Regions from separate parts of the Homo sapiens genome. Here regions 1, 3, 4, 5, 6 and 7 are each linked to region 2. Evidence: fine-mapped expression QTL. A gene starts in region 2. Each other region holds a variant in brackets. All regions are shown on one strand. Distances are from middle to middle.

Region 1 (4,067 bases), 76 kb before region 2:
CTTCCTCCCTGTGGTGGTTAACACTGAGTGCCAACTTGATTGGATTGAAGGATGCAAAGTATTGTTCCTGGTGTGACTGTGAGGGTACTGCCAAAGGAGATTACCATTTGAGTCAGTGGACTGGGAGAGGCCGACCCACCCTCAGCCAGGGTAGGCGCCATCTAATCAGCTGCCAGCAAAGCCAGAATAAAAAGCAGGCAGAAAAACATGGAAAGACTGGACTGGCTGAATCTTCTGGCCTCTGTCGTTCTCCTGTGCTGGGCTTTCTGCCCTCGAACATCGGACTCCAAGTTCTTCAGCTTTGGGACTCCTGGCCCTTCGACCACAGACTGAGGGCTGTACTGTCAGTTCCCTACCTCTGAGATTTTGGGACTTGGACTGGCTTCCTTGCTCCTCAGCTTGCAGATGGCCTACTGTGGGACCTCACGTCGTGATCGTGTGAGTCAATACTACCTAACAAACTCCCCTTTATATAAACATCTATCTTATTAGTTCTGTCCCTCTAGAGGACCCTAACAAATACACTCCCCTTCCCCTGTGATGTCTCCTTCAGCCACAGCTTAGCAGACAGGGAATCTGACGATGCCGCTGTGTGCCACAGGTAGGTTTGGGACTTACTGTCATTTGAGTAGCTTATTCCCAGGGTCAAGGAGCTGTCCTAACTTAAAAAAAAAAAAAATTACATCATCCCTTTCTCAAGTTTTACGACTGACACCTCACTGGGTGTCACTGCGCTAATATTTAGTTAGGAAAACCCACCTGGTGAATTCCACATGGAAGGAGAAGGGAGAATTCACCCACCTGGTGAATTCCACATGGAGGGAGAATTCTACCAGGAGGGAGAAGACACGTCTGGCCCAGAAGGAAGCACCTGCAGGATCCTGAAAGCTCACCCAGCAGATGGGGCCCAGTGACACATGACGAAGGACATGAGAGGCAGAAATGAGCCAGATTCGAGGAGGAGACCCTGACTACCAGAGCTCAAGCAACTGAGGGGGTGACTGAAGACCGCCCGGGATCTGCACTGGGAATCTGCGCAGGCCTTCAGCGTCTGGGGCGGGAGTGGGCCGCAGCTGGAGGGGCCTCTTCCAAGGGCAGCTGGTGCCTGCAAGTCACTCAGTCTAAAATACATGTGTCTTCCCTGTTACAAAAGGACTCTTTGACACAAATTCCTCTGGACTGGCTAGCACTTTCAAGATAGTTTAAACAAGCATCATGATTTGACCTCAAGCTGGTGGGTCCTGAGGAGTGAGATAATTGGAGGCGTCACACGGCTCTCTGGGGCTGCAGGGGGTACAGACATCAAGGCGTCCTCCCCAGGGTCATATTCATTTGGATCATTTCTCTACACCTTGAATTTTATGCTTATGCTTATGACTGTCATCATTTTCAATCTCTACATGGGGTTTTCTGGGTCCTAGGCTGACAGGCTGTGACTTTTTTCTTTTGATTTCTCTGTATCTTTTTTCTGCTTTAATACTTAATAATTTTTTTAAGTAGCATCTCTTAAAGTTCACTGGACAACATGATAATTATATTTTAAAATGTTAGCTGGCCCTAAATTGGATCACAAACCTTCACCCCAGGCACTGAGGCTTGGGGCAGGCTGCAGAAATCAGTCAGGGCTGGAAAAGTTTCAAGGGGGCAGTAGCTGGCAATTGGCTGCTCTGGCCTGGAGATCTGGGGAGAGCTTGTTTTTTGACAATGTTGAAAAAGCACTGGGTACAAGTTCTGTCGGGCTGTTGGGGAAGTTGCAGGGTAAAGAGTTCACGCTTTGCAGTCAAGCAGACCTGGCTTCAAATTCCTTTTTTTTGGCCACTTGGTTATGCTGATGTTGAAGATATCACATAACTTAAATTTAACTTCTGTGAACTCAATTTTTGTTTTTGTTGTTTTGTTTTTTCCCTCTGTAAAGCCTGTATCACCATCACCACTCATGTAGACTTGGGAAGAGTGAGTGAGAAGTAAGAAGCAATATATTAGAATAATATATCTAATATATAGATACTAGGAGCTTGGTAAGTAGAAGTCATTATGATATGTCAGGTTAACAAGCTTAGACTTTTACCTACATAGACAAAATGGATAAAACAAGCTGTTGGGAAGAGATATCATATGGTGAAATTAGTCATTTCGGAAGTTCAATCCAATGGAGAAAATTTTTAGAAGAATCAAACATCAAAACCTCCTAAAGCCTCCTCCCTTATCGACAGCCATGCACTATGCTCCCAGCCTGGACATCACCCGAGAACGCATTACCCAGAGGCAGAGCTTAACCGCTCCACAGAGGGCCCTGGAATCCCCACCTCCACCC[C/T]GCGTGAACAGTTCCCTGCCCCACAAGCCAGTTATAGCCTCTGTGCTGGACCTCTGCCCTGCCCCATCGTGCTTGTTCCCAAGACAATTCTCTCTCCTTCCAGCTTCAGATCTGGGCTCCTTTTCCTGTTTACTGCCTCTCTGTTGTGACCTCCTGGCACAGCGTACAGGGTTCCATCTGTCTGACTTCCTTTCTGCCTGGACCATGATTTCTATCTGGCCCCCAGTGGCTTCCCCTGCCCTGGGCACAGGTCAGCCCATGGCCCTCACCTCCCACTTCCCCCGCCAGCCCCATGAGCTGGATTTGAAGCAGGTCACAGCACCATTTCCAGGAATCACATCACTATTCTTTCCCCAACAGAATACACAGTCTCTGAGTTGTGCTCAAAATCGTGATTCAAATGGTGACAACAGGATATATTTTACAGAAAAAAAAGGGGTCTATATTGTCTAAACCCATCATGGACCTTCCCTACACACAGGATGGCCTTAATATGATTTTGCAAACAGCGAACAGCTGCGAACTTGCAATCAGATTATGCTAAGAGAATCACAATGCACAATAAAAGAAAGCACAGTCTTTGTTTTCCTAATGTGAATGTCAAGTCATATGAAATGGCAAACTGTTTTAGGAACATCTGGTCAATTATAAGTATTATTCAATTTAAGCAATTCAAAATGTGCATAAGGCAATTTACTTATTAAGCATGACTGAGACCGTGCAAAGGATTGTGCCTTGTGATGAAAGAGGTGTGGACACAAGGATAAGAGAGAGCTGGAAGAGAAAATAGTCCACTGTAGAGAGATTCAGCAGATTCCTGCAAGGTCCAAGGTGGTTATTTGACCAAAACTATCCCATCTCTGAGCCCCAGGGCTACGGACCTCTGTAGGCCCCTATTCTTCCCACCTTTACTCCTTCAAAGCAAACCTTGGAAAGGTAGGCAGCTGCCAGCCAGTCATCATCCACCTCTTACTTTCATGCCTTCCTCCAGCAAGTCCCTGCTCTCCTCCAGTTGCCTGGGACACTCTCATGTTTCCTCTGCAGCCTAACTCCCTTTTCCTTCCTTACCCGTTCTCCACACCCTACAAACCCTTCACACCCAGCATCAGTCCTGGTGCTGTGTGATGTCTCCTCTGATTTCTCACGTCTCCCCGCTGTCTCCCGTCTCTGGGTCTCTGCTGTGTGTGGTCCACCAGGCTTCGCAAGCAGCGCTCTCTAAACACCAGCATCAGCATCACCTGAGAACTTGCTGGAATGTAACTGGTTGGGCTCCAACCCCGACTCATTAAAACAGAAACTCTGGGGAGGTGGGTGGGGCGGCACAGTGATCTGTTTCCGTGAGCCTGGCAGGGACTGTGATGCACAATGAAGCCCAAGAACCACTGGTCAGTATCATTCCACTCAACAGCATTTCCAACCAAGTCTATCTCACTCAAGGCTGTGTGGGTCGAAGCCCACCAAGTGCACCGTTCTTCAACAATACCAAAACTCAGCTGTCCTGTCTACAAGGCCCTGGCCTACACTCTCATAGTAACTCCCATTTCTTCTGGGTAAGTGTGGCTTTGGAGGTCTACCATGTCACCAGTCTTTCTGGGTAAGTGTGACCCTCAAAGTCTGACATATGTGTGAATTTACCTCCCCAACTTGACGATACATTATTCAAGGGTAGGAACTATGTTCTAGCCTTCTGGACAGTGGTCACAGCAGCTATTCCATAATTATAACAACAATTATATATACATATATATATGTA
Region 2 (4,067 bases):
TAGTTCCTCTTCCAGAGTTGCTGACATTAGAATCGGGAGCTCTTTAAAAACACAAACTGCAAAAATCAAATTGCACTGGGTCTGGAAAATTTCCATCCCATTAAAATTGGGTTATTTGCACCCATTTTCTCATGAGGTCCTCAATCCATCCACAGCCTTTGATGCCTGATGCAGGTGGAAGCCCACAGCCAGTGGGGGTCTGACTCGGAAGCCACAGTAAGGCACACCACACCATGCCTTCCCTTCCACGCAACACCGCGGAAATCACTCTAAAGCAGGGCTCAGATCACCCTCCTCCTCCAAAACCATCAATGGCTCCCACTGACACAGAGTCAAACCCAAAGTCTTGGCCTAGAATTCAAAGATTTCATGATTTATCCTCTTCTGACCCCTCTAGTCACATTTCCTTTGCACGCTTTAAAAATAAAAACAAAAATGTAAAAGGCATTAGAAAAGTGCAAAAAACAAGGTTCCCTAATCTCAGTACCGGAGAAGAGAATACAATAAAAAAGGCTGTTGTCTCCTTTGGAGCCACTGGGTGAATCCCCTGGGAAAGTTCACGGTGTCACACACCTTGTCCCTCCCCCTTCCTGCGCTGGAGCAGCTCTCTCTGGACAGAGGCCCTTCCTGCCACCTCTGACCTGCCCCACCTGCAAGCTTTGACTCAGACACCCCCTCCCTTGCAAAGGGGACTCCCTTTGCAGGGACACCCTGACTCCCTCCCTTCCCTCCTGGGGGCTCCCACAGCTCCACAGGCGTCTACACCAACTTACTTTCTACCTGGCATTTCATTTACAAATCCATCTTATCTGCCAGGCTCAACTCTCAACCCCAGCCCCATTCACTGGGGCATGTCCTCCTTCCATCTCCCAGGCCCCATTACGGGAAGTGTTTTCTTCCCAGGCTCTTAGTGCAGGAGCTAGACCCCCTCTCACCGCAGGGCAGCAGGGATCCACTGGGGATAGTTCCCTGGGGCCTTACCTCACTCCTCTGTTACCCCAGCCTTGATCCTGCAGGAGGCAGCGCAGGATGTTTGTTCAATGGATTTTTTTTTTTTTTTTTTTTTTTTTTTGAGACGGAGTCTCGTTCTGTCGCCCAGGCGGGAGTGCTGTGGCGCGATCTCCGCTCACTGCAAGCTCCGCCTTCCGGGTTCACGCCATTCTCCTGCCTCAGCCTCCCGAGTAGCTGGGACTACAGGCGCCCGCCACTGCGCCCGGCTAATTTTTTGTATTTTTAGTAGAGAGGGGGTTTCACCGTGGTCTCGATCTCCTGACCTCGTGATCCGCCCGCCTCAGCCTCCCAAAGTGCTGGGATTACAGGCGTGAGCCACCGCGCCCGGCCAGTTCAATGGATTTTAAAAATTATTATTCTCTAGAAAAAAGACCACGAACTTTGGAGTGGACATCCTGAGACCTGCCTACGAAGACCATTAGGGTAAAGAAGTCACCCCTTCACCCCAGGACCAGGAAGCCTCCAGGATGGCATAAGCGACCAAACAGCTGGGAGCCAAGCACAGTGCAGGGGGCTTGGGGTCGGCGGCCGGAGGCTGGGGTGGGTAAGACCCGCAGGGAACTCCGGGGCTCGGGCGGCGGCTCATTCCCCGGGAAAGGGCTCGCGGTGGGGACCAGGGGCAGTAGCAGCCGCGGACCCCGCGCGCAGGGGATGTGCGGGGCATCCTCTTGGCCAGTTCCGACCTTCCCCGCCGGTGGCGATGCCCCGGACGCGTCGTCCTTTCCCAGACCTCCTCTTGGGGCCGAGGCTCCAGCCCCAGGGTCTGCGGGCGGGGCCGCGAACCTTGAAAGCCCCCGCCGCCAGCTCGCCCGCGGGACCCTGGCCCGGGGCGCCCTGTCCCGCGCCGCAGCGCAGACCCGCGACCGCGCAGGGCAGGCAGGGGGACGCCAGGTCCCTAAGCGCCCACTGCCCTGGGGCGCGGGCGCCGCCTGCGAGAGGCAGGGCAGGGCAGGAGCAGAGCAGGGACGAGGTCAGGGACACGGGCAGGGCAGGGCGGGCGTCCTCTGAACGGAGCCCGCGAGTCCCCGCCCGGGACGCTGCCCCCCGCCCGCTGCCACCGGGCGCCGGGGCAGGACCCAGCGGGGCAGGCGCGGCCGCAAGCCCCGAGCCCCAAGGCCGGCCGCGCAGCGCCGCGTCCCGCCCTCCCCGCTCCGCGGCCGGCCCGGGCGATGCGGACACAAAGGGGACGCGCGTCACTCTACCTGGGCCTGCTCGTCCGCGGTGCGCGGCTCTGACGCCTCCGCCCGGTACTGGCTGCGGGGTGCCGGGTGCCCGCAGTTTGCCGCCCGCGCCTCCCCGCGCCCGCGCAGCCCGCACGGCCCGCACTGCAATGCCAGCCCTGCCGCCTCCCGCCTGCCGAGAGCCCGCGCGGGGAGAAGCGGCTGCGCGGGCGGGGCGCGAGCGCGCACAGAGGCCGGGCACGCGGGAGGCTCGGCCCCGGCCCCGCCCCCGCGCCGAGCCGCACAGCGCCCCCTGCCGCCCGCCTGCGCCGGCCCGAGGCCCGGAGCCGCCCCGCAGGCCCCAGGACAGGCTCCGGCACGAGGAGGGGCTGCGGAGACCGCCCGTGCACGCTAACATGAAAATGCTATTCCTGCTTTAGTGGCCTCCAGAAGACACTCCCCTGATTCCTACACCGAGGGAACACACAGCAGCAAGCTAGGAAAGAAGGGGTGACCCAGCCCAACGCTGTAAACCAGGGCGCGAACCGGCGTTGAGCTGTGCAGCTGCGCCCTGGGCTCCAGTCCTGCTCTGCCGCAGACCCCACCGGAGCCAGCACCTGCCTCCCCGACCCTCGCTGGGGCGGCTGTGAGATGAGCCCAGAGCCTTCCTGAGCCAACCCTCGCAAGGAAAGTCTGTCTGTTCACCCCACTATCCTTGTCTTGAAGGATGAAGAAAAGAGGGCCCCCCGGGAGGTCCCAAAAGGTGGAATGGACATCTGGGATCCAAGCACAGCAATTTCTTTATTTTTCTTAAGGTATCCAGCTTGTTGGAATCTAAGATCTGCGAAGGTATTAATAGAATTCCTGCATCTTCTGCCACTCCCCATAGAAGCTTGAAGTTACACAAATGTTAAATTATACGTCAGATGTGCATATATGAACAAAACCTACGAGTGTGCATGAAATAACACCTTCTTAAATATATAGATTCTTTTTTCTGCAATATTAAATGGAAACCCCACTAGAACATCGTTTTTCCTTAATAGCATACCCTCCACACTGTGTGGTCTAAATTCAAGCTCTACCACCTACTAGCCATTAAGCAAGTTATTAAGGTCTTCGTGCTTCCATTTTCTTACGTGGAAAATGAGGTGGCAATAGTATGTATGAGTTCTTCGGAGGGATTAAACAAGTCAAATAGGCCAAGTGCCATGGCTTACACCTGTAAGCCCAGCACTTTGGGAGGCCAAGGCAGGAGGACTGCTTGAGCCCAGGAGGTCAAGGCTGAAGTGAGCTGTGTTTGCATCACTGCACTCCAGCCTGGGCAGCAGAGTGAGACTTTGTCTCTCAATAAATAAAGAAATAGTCAAATTAAATATAACTGGCAAACTAAAACAACTCCATAGTCCTTAGCTACAATTTGTCTCATTTCTCCAAAGAATTAAATCAGATGATTCTTAACTAACTCAAAGCTCTGCATAATTTGTCTTCTGCTACACATACATCTTTATAGTAAAATAAAATAAAGCTGTCCCCTCTGTATTGAGAAGTTATTCTGGTAAATATTTGACCTCTTCAAATATATGAACGAGCACTTGCCTTCTAATGCCTCAGTTTCAGATTCTTTTTAGAAATGTCATTATTCAAGAAAAATGCACAATGGGAAGAATCTTAACAACAGCACTTTGTTACTTCAGCCTCTCACTAGAGGATGAAAATCGTTCTGCATAAAGGCCTGGGCTTTATGAAAAATATATTCACACCTCCCGTGTCCGAGCTGGGATACCAAAGAAGTTCCTGGTTGAGTACTACTTATGAATGAAGGATTCAGGGGATGCACAGGTGGGTGACTGCAAATGCACAGACGTTGTGCTGTGTTCCCCACAATAAAGGGGT
Region 3 (4,067 bases), 140 kb before region 2:
CATGCAGAGGAACCAGAAGTTCAATATTTGAGCTGATTAAGGATCAATCAGCCAGTTCCCTGGGCAGGGGAGAGACTCTGCTTCCACATTATCAGGGACTCAGAGAAGCTGGATAAACGTCTCTGCTTTCTTTCCTCTGGTCCATCCTGCTCCAGTATCAGTGGTGAGCAAACTTTATCTGGCTCTCTTCCTTCACTGTCTATTATCAATTTATTTTACCTTGGGGCTGTAATGTCCCTGCTACTATAATGCAATGTCTTTTGTGACCTTTCTCTATTGATATTGAAGGCCCTCTTTCTATTTCTTTCTTTTTTTTTTTTTTTTTTTTAGCACCCAGCACTATTTCTCAAAACACATCTGTACTTGATTACATGACCTCCGTTATTCATAACCTTTGCAATGGGTCTTTGCAGGAACTCCCAGCTAGAGGAAGAATGTACTTCATTTTTAACTCTGTACCAGTCTTGAGATTTCCTTTGGCAAAAAGCAAAAACAAAAACACGACCACCACCAACACAAAACTCAGCAGAATTAAGATGTAAGTTTCAAGCCCAGACCTCAAGAGACCATGCATTTTTCTGCTCTTTCTCGTACCTCTGCTCAGGCTGCACTGAAGACAATTCCTGCCAAACCTAATTAGAAACTGCATGAAACAGAGCCAAATTAGTCCAATTGTTCCAGCCAAAGCTCAAGACACAGTGAGCGCCCAGCCTCAATCAGCAGAACCAGGTTCCCAGCCCACCCCGAGCTGGTCACAGGTGGCTGAGTTATCTCTGCTGAGATTAGAACTGCCCAGGTCACCACTCAACTCAGGGACAATAACAAATGCTCAGTGTTTTAAGCAACTGGATTTTGGAATGATGAGTTACTTATCAATAACAAACTCACACATCATCTCTTACCTCTTTTCTGTGTATCAGAGTAAAATGGGAAAAATGCTCTCATATATTATTTACAATACATACAATATATTATAGGTAATGTCTATCATATAATATATCTAAAGAACATAATAAGCACTCAACAAAGTATTCATCCCTCCTTATATTATCCTCTAAAAACTATTTCTCATTCTTGTGTTGAGTAATTTAAAAAGCAATGCCATCGTTACCAAAGTAAATGTAAGATGTAGTTCTAGGCCTCAGCATTCAGCCTAAATCATAGGCCCTAAAGAGTGGTGTGCAATTCTGACAGCAGAAGACTTGCCTAAGCCCTATTTTTAAGCTGGCTGCTTGTGATGGAAACATGGCCCGTAGAAATGTGTGCAGATAGACACGGGAAATAAGCAAATCTTTGAGAAAGCCTTAGCTGAGATTATTTTGCTCATCTTGGAATTAAAAAAAACATCATCACCCTTGCCATGTGACTTGGCTCCTCCATTTTCCCTCAGAATATGATTAATTGCTCTCTAAATAATAAAAGTCTTCCAGGAACAATAGAAAATATCTACTATGGAACATTCATAAATATTCAGCTGAAGCCTGGTGGGAATGCTAGGCTCCCATGAGAGCTCTGTGCTGACATTGGAAGTCAGAAACCAACTCGGAGACATAAAACTGTGCAGTAAAAATATTTACACAAATGAGTTTGGGGTGAGTTGTCAGAGTGCCATGTTCCTCTTTTGCCTGGACGTCGGGAATTAATTTGGACCTGATGGTGAAGCTCAGGTCTGAAATCATAGCAGCTTTTTTATATCCATGGACAGCTCACATAAATGTCAGGGGTGAGCAGAGTAGAAACACTTGGGCCACTACCATAGTAGAGCCCAGGGCATCAAAATGTTGCTTTATTTCCCTTTGATTCCATAGGTTCCATCCAGCCTTCTAGAAATCATTTGGTGCCACCTACTAGAAACTAGGAAAAACAAACTATTAGACTCAGGTCCCATCTCCTCTCAAGGAAACTACATGCCAAAAAGGAATACATAGGTATTTGCAATTCAACACAAGTGCCGGCATGCTGATCTGACCACATGCTACTAGAGCATAAGAAAAACAAAAGACTGCAGGGGTTGCAGGGGCGATGGGGTCAGGTGGATGACTGCACAGGAAAGGCTCTATGTAAGATGGGGCATCTGAGTGGGTCTCAGAAGAGGTTATAAATTCTTGCAGGTGAGAAGAGAGTAAGGGAATGCTACGCATCTCTGGTGTGGTCTGGGAAACCAAGGGTGACAACGATGTGGTTAGGGACAACGAGCTGGGAACATCAGCCCTAAATCTGGAATGGAAATTTGGGGATCCAGAAAGATGCAGTGATCTTTCTCTCCATTTCATTTTTGGTTTATTCTGGCTGAAGTTTTGCCAGGGGGAAAGGTTATAAAGGGCATTGGAATGTTAGTCTGTCTGAATCCTTCAGGATTTGAAGGTAACAAAAGCAAGAACCAGCCCTGCAGGTCATCGTGTGCCTGAAGAAAATGACAGATGGCCACACAGAGGCAACAGACAGCTTGGAACAGCACATGTGCTCTCTTTCCTGCCCCTCTCAGCTCTGGAAATATTTCTGGGAA[C/T]GCAGAATGCCAGCCTAATCCATCTGGAAACCTTAGATTAGGAAGAAAAAAAAAAACAAAACAGGATCATGTCTTATTTCAACTTTCAAATGTTTTGAGGAAAGTGCCAAGAGAAGGGGCAGAAAGAAGAGAAACAAAGAAGAGAAGTGAGAGGAGGAGATGAAGAAGAAAGAGGAGACACAATTAGTTGAACTATGTTTAGCAGTAGATTCACTCTAGAAGATTCATTCTGATGGCTGAAACTTCCAGAACATGGATAACGTTTCAAGACACTGACATGATGGGGAATATTAATTTGAATGTGCTATTTTCCTATGATAGCATTTTAAGACTGTAAGTATAAACAGCTACACAAACAAGCCCTTATGTGGGTTCAGATGTCCACAACAACATAACTTTATTTTTCTACCTGCAGCGCCACTTTTACTCAAGAGAAGAAAATTAAATTTTAAGTAATTCATATTAAGCAAGCAAATCAAGGATTTTCAGCTGGTTTAGTGATTCTCTCTCACCCTTTCTCCTCTGAGTTGGTGTAAGTTCTCCAGCACCAAAGCACTGAGAAGGAAAGTGCTGGGTTCTCAGTGCTCAGCATCTGTCATCATTAGAGTTTATTGAGATTTCTCCTTAACTGCTGGACTCTGGTTGCTGGCACCTGGACCTTCTGGTGTGGCTTGAGCTATCTGCCTCCAGCTGGTCCCCAAGGTTCTCTCTATACTGGTCACTCTGCATCTTCATCAAAAGTCTCTTCTAAAACATGAAAGCTGACACTTGACTCTTTTGTTTCTCTCTGTATGTTTGATGTAATAACCCTACCAGACAACATGAGCATAGATGCCCTTGCTGCCTGACTCAGGAAGTGGGTGGGAGGGGAACACGGGGCATGGCACAGAACAGGACGTACTGAAAGCTGAAGCCTTTGGTTAATCCTTTACAGTATTATTCTGATACATCCAAAGTAGCATTTATTTTTTTTTGAGGCGGAGTCTCGCTCTGTCACCCAGGCTGGAGTGCAGTGGCATGATCTCAGCTCACTGAAGCTCCACCTCCCAGGTTCATGCCATACTCCTGCCTCAGCCTCCCAAGTAGCTGGGACTACAGGCACCCGCCACCATGCCTGGCTAATTTTTTGTATTTTTAGTAGAGATGGGGTTACACTGTGTTAGCCAGGATGGTCTCGATCTCTTGACCTCATGATCTGCCCGCCTCAGCCTCCCAAAGTGCTGGGATTACAGGTGTGAGCCACGGTGCCCAGCCCATCCACAGTATTTTTTTAAACAGGTTTTTCACCTCACCCTCTCTCAATCCATGTCAAAAAGCTCCCACTCCAAGTTCTTTAAATGCCCCTCTAGATAGACCCGCTATACATACATCCAGGTAACTACCATGACCTGCATACATACAGGTGATGCAGGAGAAGGGGAGCATATCACAGCATACAGGTATACGGTCGGCAAAATGCAAAATGTGGGGTGCTCTGTAGAAAAAAAAACTGTTTAACAAAAACATTGCAAGGACAAAAATAGGAGAAGAAACCTATAGAGTCAAAGAGATTTATATATGT
Region 4 (4,067 bases), 34 kb before region 2:
AAATTTTAAGTTTGTATACAACAAATAACTTCAAAATATATAAAGCAAAAATGATACTTACTGAGAAAAATGCCAAGTACACCAACGCACTGAGAAAACTCATTATATATGACTTTAAAATGGCAAACATGCAAAACTAGTGAAAATGTAGAAAATATGAAAGGTACTGCAAACAATCTTGATGTAATAGATTGTAAAAACCCAGAACCAATAAACTGGGAATTCACAGTTTTCTCAAAAAGACACAGAACATTCACAAAAGCTGACATTATACTGGGACATAAAGAACAACTCAGCAGACCATGTGTTCTGACCTCAATGCAATTAAGATAGATATTGATAATAAAAAGATCCCACACGTTGGAAAATTTTGAAAGACTTATCAGTAACTCATGGGTTATAGAAAAATATGTAATTTTAAAAATATGTAGAACTAAACATTAATGAGAATATTATTTAAGAAAACTTATGAGATGCCATTAAAGCAGTACTGAGAAGAAAATTTTTTTTGAGACGCAGTTTTGCTCTTGTTTCCCAGACTGCAATGCAGTGGCACGATCTTGGCTCACTGCAACCTCCACCTCCTGGGTTCAAGCAATTCTCCTGCCTCAGCCTCCCGAGTAGCTGGGATTACAGGCGCCCGCCACCATGCCGCTCTAATTTTTGTATTTTTTTAGAAGACACGGAGTTTCACCATGTTGGCCAGGCTGGTCTCAAGCTCCTGACCTCAGGTGATCCACCGGCTTCAGCCTCCCAAAGTGCTGGGATTACCGGTGTGAGCCACTGCGTCCAGCCCTGAAAAGAAAATTCATAATCTTAAATGCTTATATTTTAAAAAGAGGGCTAAAAATTATTGAGCTGTTTTTAGCTGAAAAAGTAAGAAAAGCAACTATAGCCCAAAATCAAAGAGAGCAAAAGAAGACCTGTAACAAACAAAAACAAAAATAAATAAAACACAAAGTAAAGTTACAATACAGAGGGTCAACAAAGTCAAGAGTGTTTTTCTTTGAAAATCATAATAAATGCACAATCTGGCAGGTTGGTTGAGGAAGAAAAAAGAACAATTGTATTGTAATAAATAATAGAAGAGATTTAAAAATCTGTGAATAATTTTATGCGAATTAAATTGAAAAGCAGGGAATTATGAACACATGCCTAAAAGAATACAACTTAACCTGCATACCATAGTAAGACTCCAGCTCTAAAACATATATATGTGTGTGTATATGTATATATAAAATAGAAATACACATCTGGATTCTATTTGCTCATTTTTAAATTTTTTCTTAAGTTATATATATAAATATATGTTAACATACTTTTTTATATATAACATATATATATACATAAAGCTTAACAAAACTGACTCAAGAAGAAATGAGTGCAAATAATTTTACAAACTTTGAAAAAAATTGATTAGAAATCTTCCTACAATGAAATCACTAGGTCTCGTTTTCAGTTGAGTACTACCAAAATTTCAAGAGCAGATAATATAAATCGTACACAAAATCTTCTGGTAAATTGGGAAAAACAGGAAAAAAAAAAAACCCTCCCTCTTCAATCAGACAAAAGCAGTTAAGGAAAGAAAAAATATAGGCCAAACTCTCTCATGAGTAAAGAAGCAAAAATTTAAAACAAAATATGGGCAAATAGAATCCAGCTGTGTGTCAGATGTGTATTTAAACAAGCTAGATTTCTCTTAGAAGTATAAGAGAATTTAACATTGGAATATATTGTAAGCGTAACAGAACATAAAAAAACAGTGAGAACCATATGGTCCTCTTAATAGATGCAGAACAGGCCTTTGATAAAATTCAACATGTATTTATGATTAAAAACATAAAATAAAAGTCGACAAATCAGAAACACAAGGTAATTTCCTTAACCTAATGACATTTAGAAAAATATGGCGGCAAACGTATTTTTAATTAAATTAGAACATTCCCTATAAAACTCAGGCTGGAGGAAAGGATGTCTGCTATTACTTCAATTCAATATTGTACCTTGGGCTCTAATGCAAAAAAGAAAGCAATCACAAGAAAGAGAAACTATAAGAATTGAAAATGAATAAACAGTAATTTCATTATTTAAAAATACAGTATATGTACAAGAATCTATAGACAAAATATTAAGAATACCAAAGGTTTGGTAAAGTGACTAGATGCAAGATCAATATTAAAAAGGTAATTACATTTATACATTCCAGCAAAGATTCCATTTCCAAGGGTATAAAAGAAACTAAGGTACTAGGAGCACATTCAACAAAAGATAAGTAAGGTGTATCTAGAGAAAAGTAGAAAACATAGAAATTTCAGACATAAATACATGGATAGTGATACGATGTTCA[T/C]GGATGAGAAAGTCAATATCCCAGAATATGCCAATTCTTTCTAAATTGACCTACAGAGTTAATGCAATCCAAGCAACTTCCCAACAAGGGTTTGCTGCTGTTGTTAATGGTGCTATTAGTTCATAAACTAACTCTAAAATCTCTATAGAGGGCAGAGGACCAGGTATAGCCAAACACCACCAAATAAGAGGGAAAAGGTTGGAAGCCAAGTGCCAAAACTTACTAGAGAGCTGGAGTCATTAAGAGCAGGCTGCATTGACACAGAGGTGGGCAACCTAACCAAGTTAATAAAGGAGACAGAGAAAAAAAAAAAAACATGAATACATGGAAACATGACACATAACAGAGTGTGCATTTCAGATAAATAGAGACAAAGGGCCATTCAATAAATGTTACTACGTATTATTTTTCCTTATGAATAAAAACCACATTGGATTCCTCCATCACACACAAAAGTTAATTCTAAATACTTTTAAAACTATTAAATATAAGAGAGTGACTTATGACCTCAGAATACAGAAGAATATATTAAATATAAGGCCCTAATTATAAATGGGCAAGGCTGATATAGTCAGCATGTTAAAATCAAGAACTTCTAGTCATTAAAAAGATAACTTACAGAAAGTGAAAATGGATGACACAAACTGGGAGGTAATATTTTTAACACTTGAAACAAACAACAGTCTTCAGAATACAGGAAAATGAGTTCAAATCAATAAGAAAAATACAATCCAATAAAAAAACTAGACCAAAAATACGAGCAGTCATTTTACAGTGGACAAAACAGATGGTGATTAAACATGGGGAAAGTAGCTCAATATTACTGGTAGCTTAAATTCATCTTACCATTAATTTGGCAAAAATTAAGACACCTAATGCCAAGTGTTAGGATAAGAAAGGCATAAATTTTAAAGGAAACTCTTATTCACTGCTGATGGCAATGTGAATTAGTATGATCACACTTCAGAAATCATTACAACATTTTCTTGCAAACTTAATCATTAATTAGCTTTTATTTTTCAGGCCCAGCTGTGCTCTTCCTTGGTATATAATCAAGAAAAAAATTGCACTTATGGACCAGGTATTTAGGAACCAAGAATACTAACAGCAGACTGTTTTGTGACAGTAAAGATTGAAAATAACCCAAACATCCAATGGCAGGAGAATGCATGAAGAAATCGACGCCAACATTATCAAATATTACACAACATGAAATGAATAAATGCAGTTACACAAAACAACGCGGTTAAATCTTAGAGAACACTGAGTGAGCAAGTCTACCTATAACACAATATCATTGTTAATGAGTAAAAGGATATAAGGTTTAGCAATAAAGAACGCTTAAAATAGCAAGGAAAGATTAGTAGGTAGCTCAGGGGAAAGGTGGGATGCCAGGGCAGCAATATATGGGAGCACCATTCACATCAACGATGCTCTCGTTTGAAAGGCAGGTTCAGGATATTTGCTAATTATGCTTCAAAACTGACATAATGAAGTTTTTCATGTGTCAAATTCTACTGAATACAGCTCTTTAAACGCACTGCTTAAAACAGTAATATGGCAGAATCCTGTTCTGACTAAAAAGCGGGTATCTTTTTATGCCTCCTAAATTTTCTAGAGGGGTAAATAAAAAAATAATAATAATAATAATGGTGATGATGATAGTGGTTTTCTCTGGGAAAGAAGGTACAGAATTTAAATTTTTACTTAATACACTCTC
Region 5 (4,067 bases), 110 kb before region 2:
CTCCAGAGACGTGTGGGCCTGGGAGATTGTGCCCTCCCGTCAGGGACATGGCTCTTGCAGGCACACACGGTAGGGTGTGTTTGAGAAACACTGAAGCAGAGCATACTTAGGAGAAGGCTGCCGTATGAGACCAGAACTTCCATTCTGCCAGAGAGCAAAGGGCTTGCACGTTTTCCCGCCCTGTAGATGATGTGAGTGTCAATGAAGTCTTAAGACTGGCCCCAAGCCCAACAGCCCCCCAGCCCCCACTTCTGTCTGTCCTCACTATCCTGAACACCAGGAAGGAGTCCTGATCAGGAACCCCGGAGCCAAATCTGGTGTACCCTGATTTTGGATTTCCAGCCCCCAGAACCATGAGGAATAAATGTCTGTCATTTAACCTGCCTCATCTATGATATTATGTCACAGCAGCCCAAACTGACAATGACAGTCCCCGCTTAGACAAAACCTAAGATGCTAAAACCCCTTTAAATCCCAGGCTGGATCCTGAACCTGCATGAAGTGTTTAGACCCCAGGACTATACGAGTCACAAAGGCTTCTGTCCCCATGGCGCTCATGAGTTAATGTTTTCACAAACCCAGGAGAAACACCAAACGGTGTTGCTTCACTGTTACACAGGAGTAGGCACCAAGCTCTTTAGGAAACAGCTGGTCTATTTTTCTCATTCCAAATCTAAACCTCAAAGCTAAATGCCGCAAGGTGAAGCTGAAGGCCGTACTCACGTCCAGAGACTCCAGGCAGTACCAGCAGAAGGCGTGCTTGCAGTTCTTGCACATCATCTGCGCGCAGCCTTCGTCTCGCTCGATGTAGACTTTGCACTTGGGGCAGCGCTTGATGGGCGCGTCATCTTCTTCCATTTTGAAAGCAGCACTGTGGGAGAAACGCCGTGAGGACTCTGCACAAACGGATCCCACGGGAGACCCAGGAGCACTGGCTATGCTGGAAGCATCGGCTCCACTTCACAGACTGAGTTTTCTTGGTATTAAATGAAAAAACAAAACAAAAACCAAAAAACAAAGAAACAGAAACTCCAGAAAAAAAAAATTAACCAGAACACTGTGAATCAGCCACTTTGAGTTAGGAAAAATTTTTAAAAAATTACAGCAACATCAACACATATCTAAATTTAGAGATATATGTATACAAACAAAAGAAAATACAGCGAAAGGCTTATTATAACGGAGGTATCTGAATCATAGTGTTAAGGTCAAATATTGTATCCTTATTCACAGAGCTGTCTACTTTCCAAAGGGTTGATATAAATTTTATGTACTTTGCTGTTATAAGAAAAATAAATAAATGTTGCAAATACACACACACAAACACACACTGTTTACTTGAGATAGATCCACCTGGCTCTTCTTACAGAATTGTTTTCCTCAGAAGTTGGCTAGGTCTGCAGGGTTAGCAAGAAGGGCTTTAAGCTGAGGTCAGAGCTGGGTCTGCTACAAACCAGCTGTGGAGCAACCCTCCAAGCCCTAGTTTTCTCATCAGTGTGACCATGAGAAAAGATTCCGTGTGCCAAGAGCACAGCGCAGGGTGCAGCTTTTATGAAGTGCTTGATAAAGGGTAGCAGTAGTTCAATGTTGCTAAAGAAAGATAACACAGACATTAGGTATGACTCACCCCATGCTGTTAATTTTTAAAAGATGGGTAAGAATATTCAGAAAAGCATCTGAAGGAATAAATGATAAACTGTTAAGAGGAGTTATCACTGATTATGGGGGTCCATTTGCTATATTGTTGGAACTCACTATATCAAACAAACATCAGCAGGAGAAAATGCATCCCTCCTTCTCGGGGCAGCTTTTTCAGAATTTAACACATGTATGGGTATATATTCACGGCAGTTGAGCAAATTCTGGCTTTTTGAGTGCATTCTGGCTGAAGGATCTCTCACAAGCTTCCAGTCAATATGAGCATTAAATGTAGTTTCACTTTAGTAGGAGCTGTCTGATGATTGGCAGTGAACAATCCTCCACTTGGGGTGCACATTCCAACTGAACGTGACTGTTTGGTCCATTAGTAGAAGGCAACAGAGTAAGAAATAATGAGAGAAGCAGTATGTCCTCCTAATTAGGAGCACAGAGTCTTGAGACAGACAGATCCTAGCTGTGCGATTTATGTGTTACGTGTCTCATCTGCAAACCAGATGAATAAGGCTAATAGCATCGATCTCTACAGACGGTTGTGAGGATTACAGAGGTTGCACATGTTAACATGTTAAGCACAAAATCCAGCACATAAGTACCAGGCACTCAATAAACAGTAGTTATTATTAACAACTGTTACTGAAAGATAACACAACTGTCACTAGCTCAAATGCTTCCAATTTAAAAGCAAACTGCAGACCAACCTGGTCATGCAGAATGTGATAAAGAATGAACTAAGGTTGTTGCAAGGAGCAAACGAGATAGCATATGTGCAAATGTCTCCAGAGGGATCCAGCACAGAGCCAGCTCCGAGTAAACCTTAGGCCTGGCCTCCTTC[T/C]GAGAATGACTTTGATTTTGCAAAAAGCTGGAAGTCATGAGACACCGGATCTGGTGATCAAGGTTGGGTTTTAGGTTAGATAACATTGTTTTGGTTTGAAAGCCAGGTGTGACCTTAAAGCTAAGAAACCAATTTTCTCATGTGACTCACAAGCTGATTTTGGAAGAAACGGCAGGAACAGCGTGTACAGTGTCTCCTGGGGAGACATTTCAAAATGAAAACCGTTAAAATATGAAAGTTCTGGTGTACTGTGCTATGCATAAAATTTTGCATGGAATAGACAATGGTTTTCAAATATTTCTTAGTATCTGAATTGGATTTAAAATTATTACTAACAACATTTACTGTAAACTCAAATTATAAAAGCAGAGAGGAGTTTGGACAGTTTAATCACAATCTACACGTGGCCCAGCAGCTTGAAGAGGTGCGCAGGTGATGCTAATGAGTGAAGTGGTCAGGGGCTGGATAAAAACATGGTTGAGGAGAAGATTTAACCAAAAACAACAACAACAACAAACCCTCCAATACAAAAAATAGCTTAGTGTCTTCTCAGTTATAAATGGCAGCTGACAGGCAGCCTCAGTTCCAGGGGACAAGGAGTAGTGAGGACTGTGGGGCTTTGGCCCAGGAGGCGCCTCCAGCAAGAGCTGGGGCTCTGCTACGCTGGCTGCCAGCATGGGGAGGCAGCCTCGGAGAGGCTTAGGATTCGGATTTCCCAGAGAAGCCAGAAATTCCAGTTTTTATGTGACATCTTCTGATTTAAAAATTTCCACAAAATGAGATTTCTGAATTTTGATTTAGATCATCTTTGGACAATAATTTAAATGAGACTAGAATGTCACAGATAAAGAAAACTAAGTCATCAGGCTCCAAACACTCACCAGCCTCCATCTAAAGTTTTGAAGCCCCTAAGATGCCAAGTACACGTGAAGTATAAGTACAAGTGGTTCGTGCTTGCAGCTGCCTGCCTGATGCAGGCTGCTCAGAAAGGCCCAGGCCCTGTGTGTCAGGAGCTCATCCTGATGGCAGAATCGGCCTTGTCAACGCAAGAACTCAAATCCAATATGTCCAGGGTTGTAATCAATGCAGAGAATCTCAGGGGGAACACAGAGGGTGGAGGCCCCAACCCTGTCCTCGGAACCATGAAGCTTGACAAAGGGATGTGATCCCCACCTGAAGTGTGGCAGGAGCCCCCAGGGAAAGGAGGAGGGCAGAGCAGGGCACTCCAGACACGGGAAGAGAGGTTCGCCCGGAAGGAGACCAGGGGTGTGTGGCAGGGACCCTGAGAGGGTCGGGGGCTAGAACAGGGCACAGGGGTCACACGGAAAGGAACAGGAGCTGGGGACGGTGGAATGGGAAAAGGGGCGCACAGGGAGCAGCTGGTGAGCACACCCTGGGGAGGGTGGTGGGTAGAGTGGCAGCTCCTCTATGAGGATCCTGGACTCAACAGGAGCAGGGGCAAGTGTCCAGCAGAACCACGTGACCTTGTAGATTTTGTAGGAGAAAAAGACCTGGATATGATGAATTTCCTATGCATCAACCTACGAAATGTCAAAGTACAGAGCGTGGTGCGGCA
Region 6 (4,067 bases), 60 kb before region 2:
CCCACATTCTTTTCATGTACACATCACCCTGGAGGCTTCTGTGGAGCCTGGAAGGCTCATTCATAAACAATAACTTCTGGTCCCCCACCAAAGATGTAATTGCTAATCTGATTGTTTCACCTTTCGAAATACTAAAGAGGCCACCCTCAGGAAAAAAAAAAAAGCTAATGATTTCTTTTAACTTTTCACACCTGAGAAGAATGTCTGTTTCATCACAGAGTCTTCTAGGTATTAAACAGGTCTTTGGTTTAACAATGGCAATGACAGACCATTTAGTTGGCTAGGATGCAGAGATAAATCCAGTGCTCAACTTCCCCAATCATAATCACACAGAAGGCACCTCTGCCTCCCTCACAGCCAGTGCTGGAGACTGCCTGTCCTAATAACCAGGAAAAAAAATATCTCATCTCATCTGCATCTCCCACCCTCCCTGTGAGGAAGTCCACGTGATCCCTACAGCCTTGGCCAAGACTGAAGACCACAGGCTCAGGGTCAACCCACAGCAGCGCCTCCCACTCATTCAGAAGAGACATCTCTGTCCAACATCCCTCAGATCCACAAGGCTGAGCCCCTATCCCAGCCCCTCGCCCACTATTCTAGAACTTAGACTCCAATAGGCACTCAGGAAACACACAAGGCTGCTCCTGTCTCTCTACTTTCTGACCCTGGCTGCAGAGACCACCAAGTGCAGATGAGCTCATGAGACAGAGAGGCAGCCCAGAAGTTGGGCAGAGATACGTGGACCCTTCATGCCACCCTTTCTTCTGGATGCCAATCCTCACCCATCCAGTGCTCCATCCCTTTGCTGGACAACAATGGGAAACTCTGTTAGCTATAAAAACAAACCACAGAACTTACTCAGTTCTGACATGGTGGTGATGATCCCCACAGGTGCAGAAAGAGAGCTCTCTTCTAAAGAGAATATTCACAAAGAGAGAAGGAAAGCCTCCAAACAGACAGGGTCCAGGCTCAGACTGCAGAACCAGCCTACTTGTTTCCTGAGCATTCAGCTTGGTTCTGAGTCCAACCTCGAGGGACTTGAACATGATCACATAAACTGATGCAACCTTTCCTGGAAGGAAACAGAGATGTCAACTTCAAATTATTCCCAAGAAAACCCCGGCAACCTGGGAAGAGTCTTCAAGGCGGGGAACGTTCCTGCTGGGAATACCCACAATAACACAAGTCTGTGTGGAGTAATTATTCCCAGCCCCACGTTCGAACTTGGGTTTTTACCCCTGGAACCTTTATAAGGTGTCCCTGAGCTTGGAGGCACCAGTCACAAAGAAAAGACATGGGCTGTCTAGAAGTCTGTTCCCAGGAAGGATCTTGTTGAAATGATAATGGGCCTAATGGGACTATGTGCTGTTAAGAGAGTACAAGTCCTTGGTCACTTGAGCATCATTAATATAGAATTACAGCACCAAAAACAATAGAACCCACCATATCCAACCATGTTTTCCACATTCACAGGCCATCATAGGCCTCTGACACATAAAGTCCTGTTAGGAGCTTCCTGTCATTCCAGAAAGAAGTCCACGTCCTCCAGAGCTATGCAGGACCACAGACACCTTTACCTCACGAGGGTGCCCACACCTCCTCTCCTCTCCTGGTCTACTAGCCCCTGTTGAGGATGAGGAGTGAGGCTGTGATGCAGTTCTATGGGTTCCCCAAGCTGACCACATACCCACCAAGGACACTATTTCACAAGACGTCTCCCAGATGGAAACTTCCAGTGACTCCAGGGTGATGTATCTTAAAGGCAAACTCCCCAACAGCTCCCCCCGACACTCACTACCATCTATGCTTTCATTTTCTCCTTAAAACAATAGGCTTAATACTGTCTACTGTGTAACTTATTTCTCTCCTTTATGTTCTTTTTGTCTCTCCAGAATAGACACCCCAATGAGGGCAGTAGTTTTTATTTGCTGGGTTCACTATTCTATCCCAAGAATTTATAACAGTGCAAGCATAGAGGAAGTGCTCCATAAAAAATTGGTCAGTAAAGTTTAATGGACACTCTAAAGCTCGCTGCCTGGGAGAAAGCTCCTGTAACAGCAATAAAAGGTTTACCGCTTCTCCTGCACCAGAAGTTTCCCAGTAACAGAGATCATTTTATGCCCATATAATATCAACTATTTGGTATAATGTACTACACGTAGAAAGTAAATATTTACTGAGTAGTGACTCAATAACCGCTAGTAATGAGGTGCGATCCTCTCTGCAGTGAAATTAAAATGTGCATTAAACACTGAATACTGATGCTCAGTGTTGATTTGATCCCAATGAATTGATGTTACGATGTTCAAAAGAACCATGTCCAGTTGTCTGTGCTTTCGTGTCATTAACTCAAAAGGCATACGCA[A/G]CTTTCCCTTCCTGGGAACAAGGAGGCCTGGCTTCCAGCCCTGGGCCTGCCTCCTGCCAGCCCTGGGATCTTGGCACATCTCCTAAGCTCTCTGCATCCTGCTTTACTCATGTGGAGAACGACAGGGCTTATTTTCCACCTATAAAATCAACTGAACATTTAAAAAATTGTAATAACTTGGTTATAGTCTTAGAGAAAGCAATAAACATGGCTAATGGTAACATACAATGAACTAACACTTTTGAGAGGCAATGCGTAATATTTATCAAGGAACTTAAATTTTTTTAATCCTTTGATCAAGAAGCCCAATTTCTGGGAATTTCATCCATTGAACAAATAATTGCAGGCATGAAAATGTGGATTACAGCATTGTCTGTAATATTAAAAAGCTGCAAGTGCATGAATATAATATTTTCAAAGGCGTATCAGACCAGTTTTTTTAAAAAAAGAAGAATATGTATTATAGAATGACATTTTGCAGGATTAACCAATAGCCTTTTGGTATAATTTTGGTAGGTGAAAAGTAAGCATAAACCCCATCTGTTCATTATGATGGTACAACAGACAAAGGAAAGGGTAGTACATACTCACACAAAATCATTTCTTATGAGAGTGAGGAGTAACTGTTTTTCTTTGTGCAATATTCATATTATATATAAAGTTTATATATGAAATGTATATATAATAAATTTATATATATGAAATGTATATATGACATATATCATTATATATGAAATTTATATAGTTTTATATATATGAAATTCATATATATATAAATTTCAAAACCTTCTGCAAACCAAAGAAAGTTACAATAAATAACAAAACGAAAAACATTGCAAAATGTATCCCAAAGAGTTATTCTCCTTAATACATACATAACTTTATAAATTGAGAAGTAAAAGAGCAACAATTGAATAAAAAACGATCAAGGAACGAGATAAAATTCACAGGAAAAGAAAAACGGCCCTCAAACAAACACAATTATAAGAAGAGAAATTCACTCTTACTATATCAAGATGCCATTCCCCAACTATCAAGTTGGCAAAAATTCAAATATTTCGCAAACCCTGTGGGGGAGGCTGTAGGTCAACCATTACTCACACACCTTACTGGCTGGAGTTCAAAATGATATAACACATGAAATGGGGAAAATGTCAATATATCTACCAAAGATTTACTACATGTACCCACTGACCTAGTAATCCCACTTCCAGTCATGTGCCCAGTGGAGGAAGTTAGTCACTGGGGTCTTGTTTGTAATACCAGAAGACTGGGAATAACTCAAGTAGCAGGCTGTGGACTAAACCATGGAAGGTCTGCACAATGGAATACTGTGCCGCTGAAGAAAGGATGAAAAAGCCTTCTATCCATTCAAATGGAAAGATCTGCAAAATGTGTTAAGTGAAAACAGCAAAGCATAGAACAGCATATATCCTACGATAAACTTTGTGTACTTATTTGTATTCACATAAACACTGCATGGATATCCAAGATTCTTTCATTTTTTGAGACAGGGTCTCGCTCTGTCACCCAGGCTAGAGTGCTGTGGTGCAATCTTGGCTCACTGCAGCACTGTCCTCCTGGGCTCAGGTGATCCTCCCACCTCAGCCTCCCAAGTAGCTGGGACCACAGGCCTGTGCCACAACCACACCTGACTAATTTTTGCATTTTTTGCAGAGATGGGCTTTCAACTTGTTGCCCA
Region 7 (4,067 bases), 98 kb before region 2:
CAAAAGGCCCCCCAGGATAGCACACAGGGGAGACCTGGCTAAGGTTTCCATGGGAACGATTTAAATCTTATTAGTTTTGTCCTCATATAGCTGTGACACGGCACTGCCTGTCCTCACATGGAGAGATTCCCTATCGAAAAGGTCAGGGACAAACGGCCGCTCTGACTGCAGACTGCAAATGTCCTTCCTGTGCTGCCGGGGCATGTCACACCCTGTGAACATGGCCCCAGGCTGAGGCGTAGATGTCTATTAACATTCTGCATTATCCTCCCCAATCTACACACGTGTGTGTATGAGACATATTTTCAAACAAAGCAAATGATATGCTTTTTGGCACACTAGAGGAAACTAATGTTAACTCTTCTCTCCCAGAGGCGTATTCATGGCAGATTAATGAAGCAGGTCTCTTAAGAACTCCCTGCTTAAAAATGCATAAAACTTTTTAAAAAGGTGGCTTTCCTTTTAAAACAGTTTCCTTTCAGAAGTACATGACAGAGAACGATGCACCCAGCATCCCCTCTCATCCCTGCACTTACTACCCTGCCCGGCGGGCTGGTGCCTGGTGCAGGGCTGGGATGGTGGGTTTGATCCTGCTGTGAGATGGCAACATTTTCAGGAGTCGGCTCTAGTCAGGCCTGATTACAGGTGGATAACCCATCGTATTATTTAATCTCTCTGAGCTTTACTTTAAAAAAAAAAAACAAAGAACAAAAAAAAAAACAATACACGGTTGACATCTGACATCAGCATTCACTTGGCCAGGCACTGGGCTGGCATGGGACGAAGGCATGAGGACCCACAGTCCTGTCTCTGGGAGGGCTGAGCCTCCAGATAGAGGCAGGTGCACAGCAACGCCCTTAGCACAGCACCGCTGGGTCTCAGAGGGCCACGGGCGTCGAGTGTAGCATGAGAGAGGGGTCCACGCAGCAAGAGGCATCCACACCCCCTCGCTCAAGAATCTGTCCCTACCCAGACTCTGGAGTGAGCCAGTTGTGAGGAGGTGTTCAGAATGAAAACTCAGCTTCCTGGCCCCCTTCCCTGGCTTCCTGCTTGCCCCAGAGCTCCAGAAGGGGAAGACATTGACGCTAAAACCAAGGCTGTTATATCAGAGGAGACATTCTAAGACTAAGTGCAGACAGTGTGCGCAACATGACCTAACCATAGAACTTTCTGGTAACTCAATGTTTTCAGAAAATCATTGAACTGTCTCAGTTTTCTTCCAGGGCGTCCTCTACTTGACTAGATTTTAGAGCCATAGAGACAGTCAAAATTTGCTTTCTGATCTTGTCTCCAAACTCTTTCAAGGTGCTGGCTATAATCCATAACTATATTTTAGCTCTGACATTCTAACGTTTTATCTAGACAGGTCTTTTATAGTATGAAGTCTGAATACTTAAAAAAAAAAAAACTTTGAACATAATGTTAGTAAAATGCTTTAAAGGGAGAGGCTTGAGAGATTTTTTTTTTTTAACAGAAGCCAAGTTGGCTTCATGTTTATGCAAAAGGAAAAAAGATTTTCTGACTAAGCCAAAGTACTAAAGAAATAACAGTTAAAATTATTAGGTTGAAAAATGTACCCAGCTGCATTTTTAAATTAAATTCAATGTCATAGAAAGTTCATATTCTTGTAACGCAAACAACAGCCAGTTTCTGTCAAGATTCTCTCTGGAAAATATTCTCAGAAGAGCCTGAAAGTCTCAGAAGTCTAAATTAATCAATTTTATTGCCCTACGTACTGACTTTTGTACCAAATGGCATTATATTAAAGCTATAAACTGCCCCAAAGCAAATGATATACGACACTTTAATAAACACACTCTTGAAAACAAATGTCAATGCCATGAAAAATGCTGTTTGAGTTTTTTTTTAAGTGGGCTACATATTTTTTTCTTTTTCTTTCTTTTTTTTTTTTTTTTTTAGAGACGGGGTCTCAATATGTTGCCCAGGCTGGACTTGAACTCCTGAGTAGTTGAGACTATAGGTACATGCCACTGGGCCCAGCTATCTCTAGCATTTCTTTTAGAAAGCAAAAATATACAAACAACAGGTCTCTGCATGCAGCTAAACTGGGAGTCTCTGGATATTGTCCTCTGGTCTCCTCTGCCGTCCACTCCCCATCCGGCCATGTTTTCATGTAAGCCCACCCTCCAGGGCTGTGTCTCAGTGGTGAGACCCTGCTCAGGTCAAGAACCCGAGAATCAGTGCAGGGAGAGGGAGAGCAGATGCCAGCAATCCAAACTCAGAATCCGCCTGCAAGGTCCACACAATGATGTTCTGCATATGGAGTGT[C/T]GCCTGCACACATCTGTCACTCTGCTCTTTACCAGACAAGCCTGGGGCCCAGAATAGATATGAAAACAAAGCCAAAGAGAGTCCACAGACTCTTTACAGTTTCATTGTATGACCCCGGAGTATTTCAGAGAGCAGAGCTAAAGACCTCTCCTGGACATTCCACATGGCTTAATGCTTTGCAATATTATCCTGAGAATCATGTTCTGCTCTGTGTGCACCTGCCACACTGCTCTCCCAGAGGACCCCTGGGTCTGCATCAGGCCTGCTCCAGCCAGAAGGACTATTCAGGGCCCAGTGGAGGGCTCACGATGAAGGGTCATGGGATGTGGTCCCAAAGCACCCACTATATTTAGAAATCAGGGCAAGTCAGTTAGCCTCTCTGGGGATCCGTTTATTAGATAATGACAAATTAGCTTTGCAGAGTTGTTGTGACACTTACTGGGATAAGGGACTTGATTATTCATTCACCACCTACTATCTAGGTCTGTGTCCAGTGGTGAGTAAGCGCAGACAGGACACCTACCATCGGACTGTTGTTAGGACGGGGGTTACTGTAATTTCTGCTATGCCTACCCTCACGACTTCCCTCCATGACTCTGCATCTTTTAACTTCTGGGCCAGTCCAAGAGTTTAGCCCTCAAACTCAGCCTTAAGCTGGCTGAAATATAATACCTCAAGAGAGCCATCAACTTTAAGCCTCCCCCAGGAGCCTCAATCCTTATAAACAAATTGTGTTCCATAAATTCTTCCTGCTACCAAATAGATCACTAGACAAGGTCTTCAAACTGTGAGCTGTTCAGAGAATCCAGAATGTCAGTTTAATTTCAGAAGTTTATTTTACATCAACTTTTTAACTCCTATCAAATGCTGTATAACCATATCTACCAAAAGAACTCCCCACAAAATTATCCACATTCACACATTACAGGAATCATAACCGGCAGATATACCAGGCACCTACCTCTTTCAAATTGTAGCTTTTTATATCTTTGCATAATTTCAGCTGCAACCATGCACTCAATCTAAGGGAAAAAAAAATGCAAACAGGAATGATAACAAGCTGAGGGCTAGAATATAATGCAACGCACACCCAAACAAAACCCACGTTATTCTGACAAGTTCAGCAGTGCACGCCTGTGCACATCAAACAGCCCAGTCTGTTCAATTGCACATGCCTCGTTCTCCTGTAGGTGGCCCTGTTTAGGGCAGGCAGCATCTGGGCAGCTAATTGCGGTTTCTAATCCTTCTTTGATCAAGAGCTCAACATACTGTTTCAGGCACTGAAAGAAAAACAGAGAAGTGTCTATAAACATCTTTACCTCCTTAATGCTGAAGAAACCATGATGCATTAAAAAAAGGACCAGGCACATCATTCCATTACAGTTTAATATTTTCACTGTGTAGTCCACAGCAACCAACACATTTGAGGTTTTGAGGTTTTATTCATTCAACAACTATTTATGGGGTACCCATTCTGTGCCAGGGACTGTATGCTCAATCACAAAGCTAAGGCTATGGGTTAGATCCCGGCACAAAACCTCAGCAAACACAAGAGCCAAGAATTCTAAAAGCAAGATGAAAGGCAGCAAGGGAGGCTGGGAGGTAATATTTCTCAAATGCCTATAAGATGCAGGCACTGCATTAAATATTTTATCTCTCAGTCTTTCACTGAAGCCTTAGAGCATTTTTACAAGAAAGGTATGACTGTTCCATTTTTCATATGTGAAAACTGAGTCAGCAAAGGAGGAAGTTGCCAACTTACACAAATAGTACCCAGA

Alleles and levels. Positions count from the first base shown, and alleles are read on the strand shown. Sizes are in standard deviations (SD) of each study's normalised expression. Not every link is listed here.
For the expression in fibroblasts of the gene that starts at base 2,424 in region 2, allele T in region 1 goes with a higher level than allele C (small effect, 0.33 SD a copy in GTEx).
In carriers of allele C in region 4, the expression in liver of the gene that starts at base 2,424 in region 2 tends to be higher than with T alone (moderate effect, 0.69 SD a copy in GTEx).
In carriers of allele C in region 5, the expression in subcutaneous fat of the gene that starts at base 2,424 in region 2 tends to be higher than with T alone (small effect, 0.28 SD a copy in GTEx).
For the expression in sigmoid colon of the gene that starts at base 2,424 in region 2, T is the high allele of the variant in region 7 and C is the other (small effect, 0.20 SD a copy in GTEx).

Evidence for each region. PIP is the estimated chance that this variant, and not a neighbour inherited with it, causes the effect. A credible set is the group of variants that fine-mapping cannot tell apart.
Region 1: its variant is the best candidate, but not a certain one, in a credible set for the expression of RNF144A in fibroblasts (GTEx, PIP 0.83).
Region 3: its variant is the best candidate, but not a certain one, in a credible set for the expression of RNF144A in blood mononuclear cells (TOPMed, PIP 0.88).
Region 4: its variant is the best candidate, but not a certain one, in a credible set for the expression of RNF144A in liver (GTEx, PIP 0.56).
Region 5: its variant is the best candidate, but not a certain one, in a credible set for the expression of RNF144A in subcutaneous fat (GTEx, PIP 0.84).
Region 6: its variant is the best candidate, but not a certain one, in a credible set for the expression of RNF144A in cerebellum (GTEx, PIP 0.57).
Region 7: its variant is the best candidate, but not a certain one, in a credible set for the expression of RNF144A in sigmoid colon (GTEx, PIP 0.74).

Annotation. Positions count from the first base shown.
Region 1 is chr2:6,991,821-6,995,887 of GRCh38, reverse strand. The region is part of intron 2 of RNF144A (ring finger protein 144A); the gene reads right to left. Among named protein-coding and RNA genes, the nearest start is that of GRASLND, 75 kb to the right of the region's middle. The variant C/T (reference allele first, on the strand shown) is at 2,315.
Region 2 is chr2:6,915,769-6,919,835 of GRCh38, reverse strand. It overlaps RNF144A (ring finger protein 144A), which reads right to left and starts at 2,424. Exons shown (of 9, transcript NM_014746.6): 1 at 2,214-2,424. GRASLND (glycosaminoglycan regulatory associated long non-coding RNA) reads left to right here and starts at 1,154. Exons shown (of 5, transcript NR_033997.1): 1 at 1,154-1,434; 2 at 2,612-2,986; 3 at 3,869-4,013. RefSeq lists a silencer at 2,095-2,584.
Region 3 is chr2:7,058,759-7,062,825 of GRCh38, reverse strand. It overlaps LOC101929452 (a long non-coding RNA gene), which reads left to right. Exons shown (of 3, transcript NR_110252.1): 3 at 1-99. It also overlaps a transcript of RNF144A not described here. Among named protein-coding and RNA genes, the nearest start is that of GRASLND, 140 kb to the right of the region's middle. The variant C/T (reference allele first, on the strand shown) is at 2,507.
Region 4 is chr2:6,949,873-6,953,939 of GRCh38, reverse strand. The region is part of intron 2 of RNF144A (ring finger protein 144A); the gene reads right to left. Among named protein-coding and RNA genes, the nearest start is that of GRASLND, 33 kb to the right of the region's middle. The variant T/C (reference allele first, on the strand shown) is at 2,348.
Region 5 is chr2:7,021,173-7,025,239 of GRCh38, reverse strand. RNF144A (ring finger protein 144A) reads right to left here. Exons shown (of 9, transcript NM_014746.6): 7 at 724-871. Among named protein-coding and RNA genes, the nearest start is that of GRASLND, 100 kb to the right of the region's middle. The variant T/C (reference allele first, on the strand shown) is at 2,492.
Region 6 is chr2:6,975,631-6,979,697 of GRCh38, reverse strand. The region is part of intron 2 of RNF144A (ring finger protein 144A); the gene reads right to left. Among named protein-coding and RNA genes, the nearest start is that of GRASLND, 59 kb to the right of the region's middle. The variant A/G (reference allele first, on the strand shown) is at 2,366.
Region 7 is chr2:7,013,956-7,018,022 of GRCh38, reverse strand. It overlaps RNF144A (ring finger protein 144A), which reads right to left. Exons shown (of 9, transcript NM_014746.6): 4 at 3,465-3,569; 5 at 3,251-3,311. Among named protein-coding and RNA genes, the nearest start is that of GRASLND, 97 kb to the right of the region's middle. RefSeq lists an enhancer at 356-855. The variant C/T (reference allele first, on the strand shown) is at 2,290.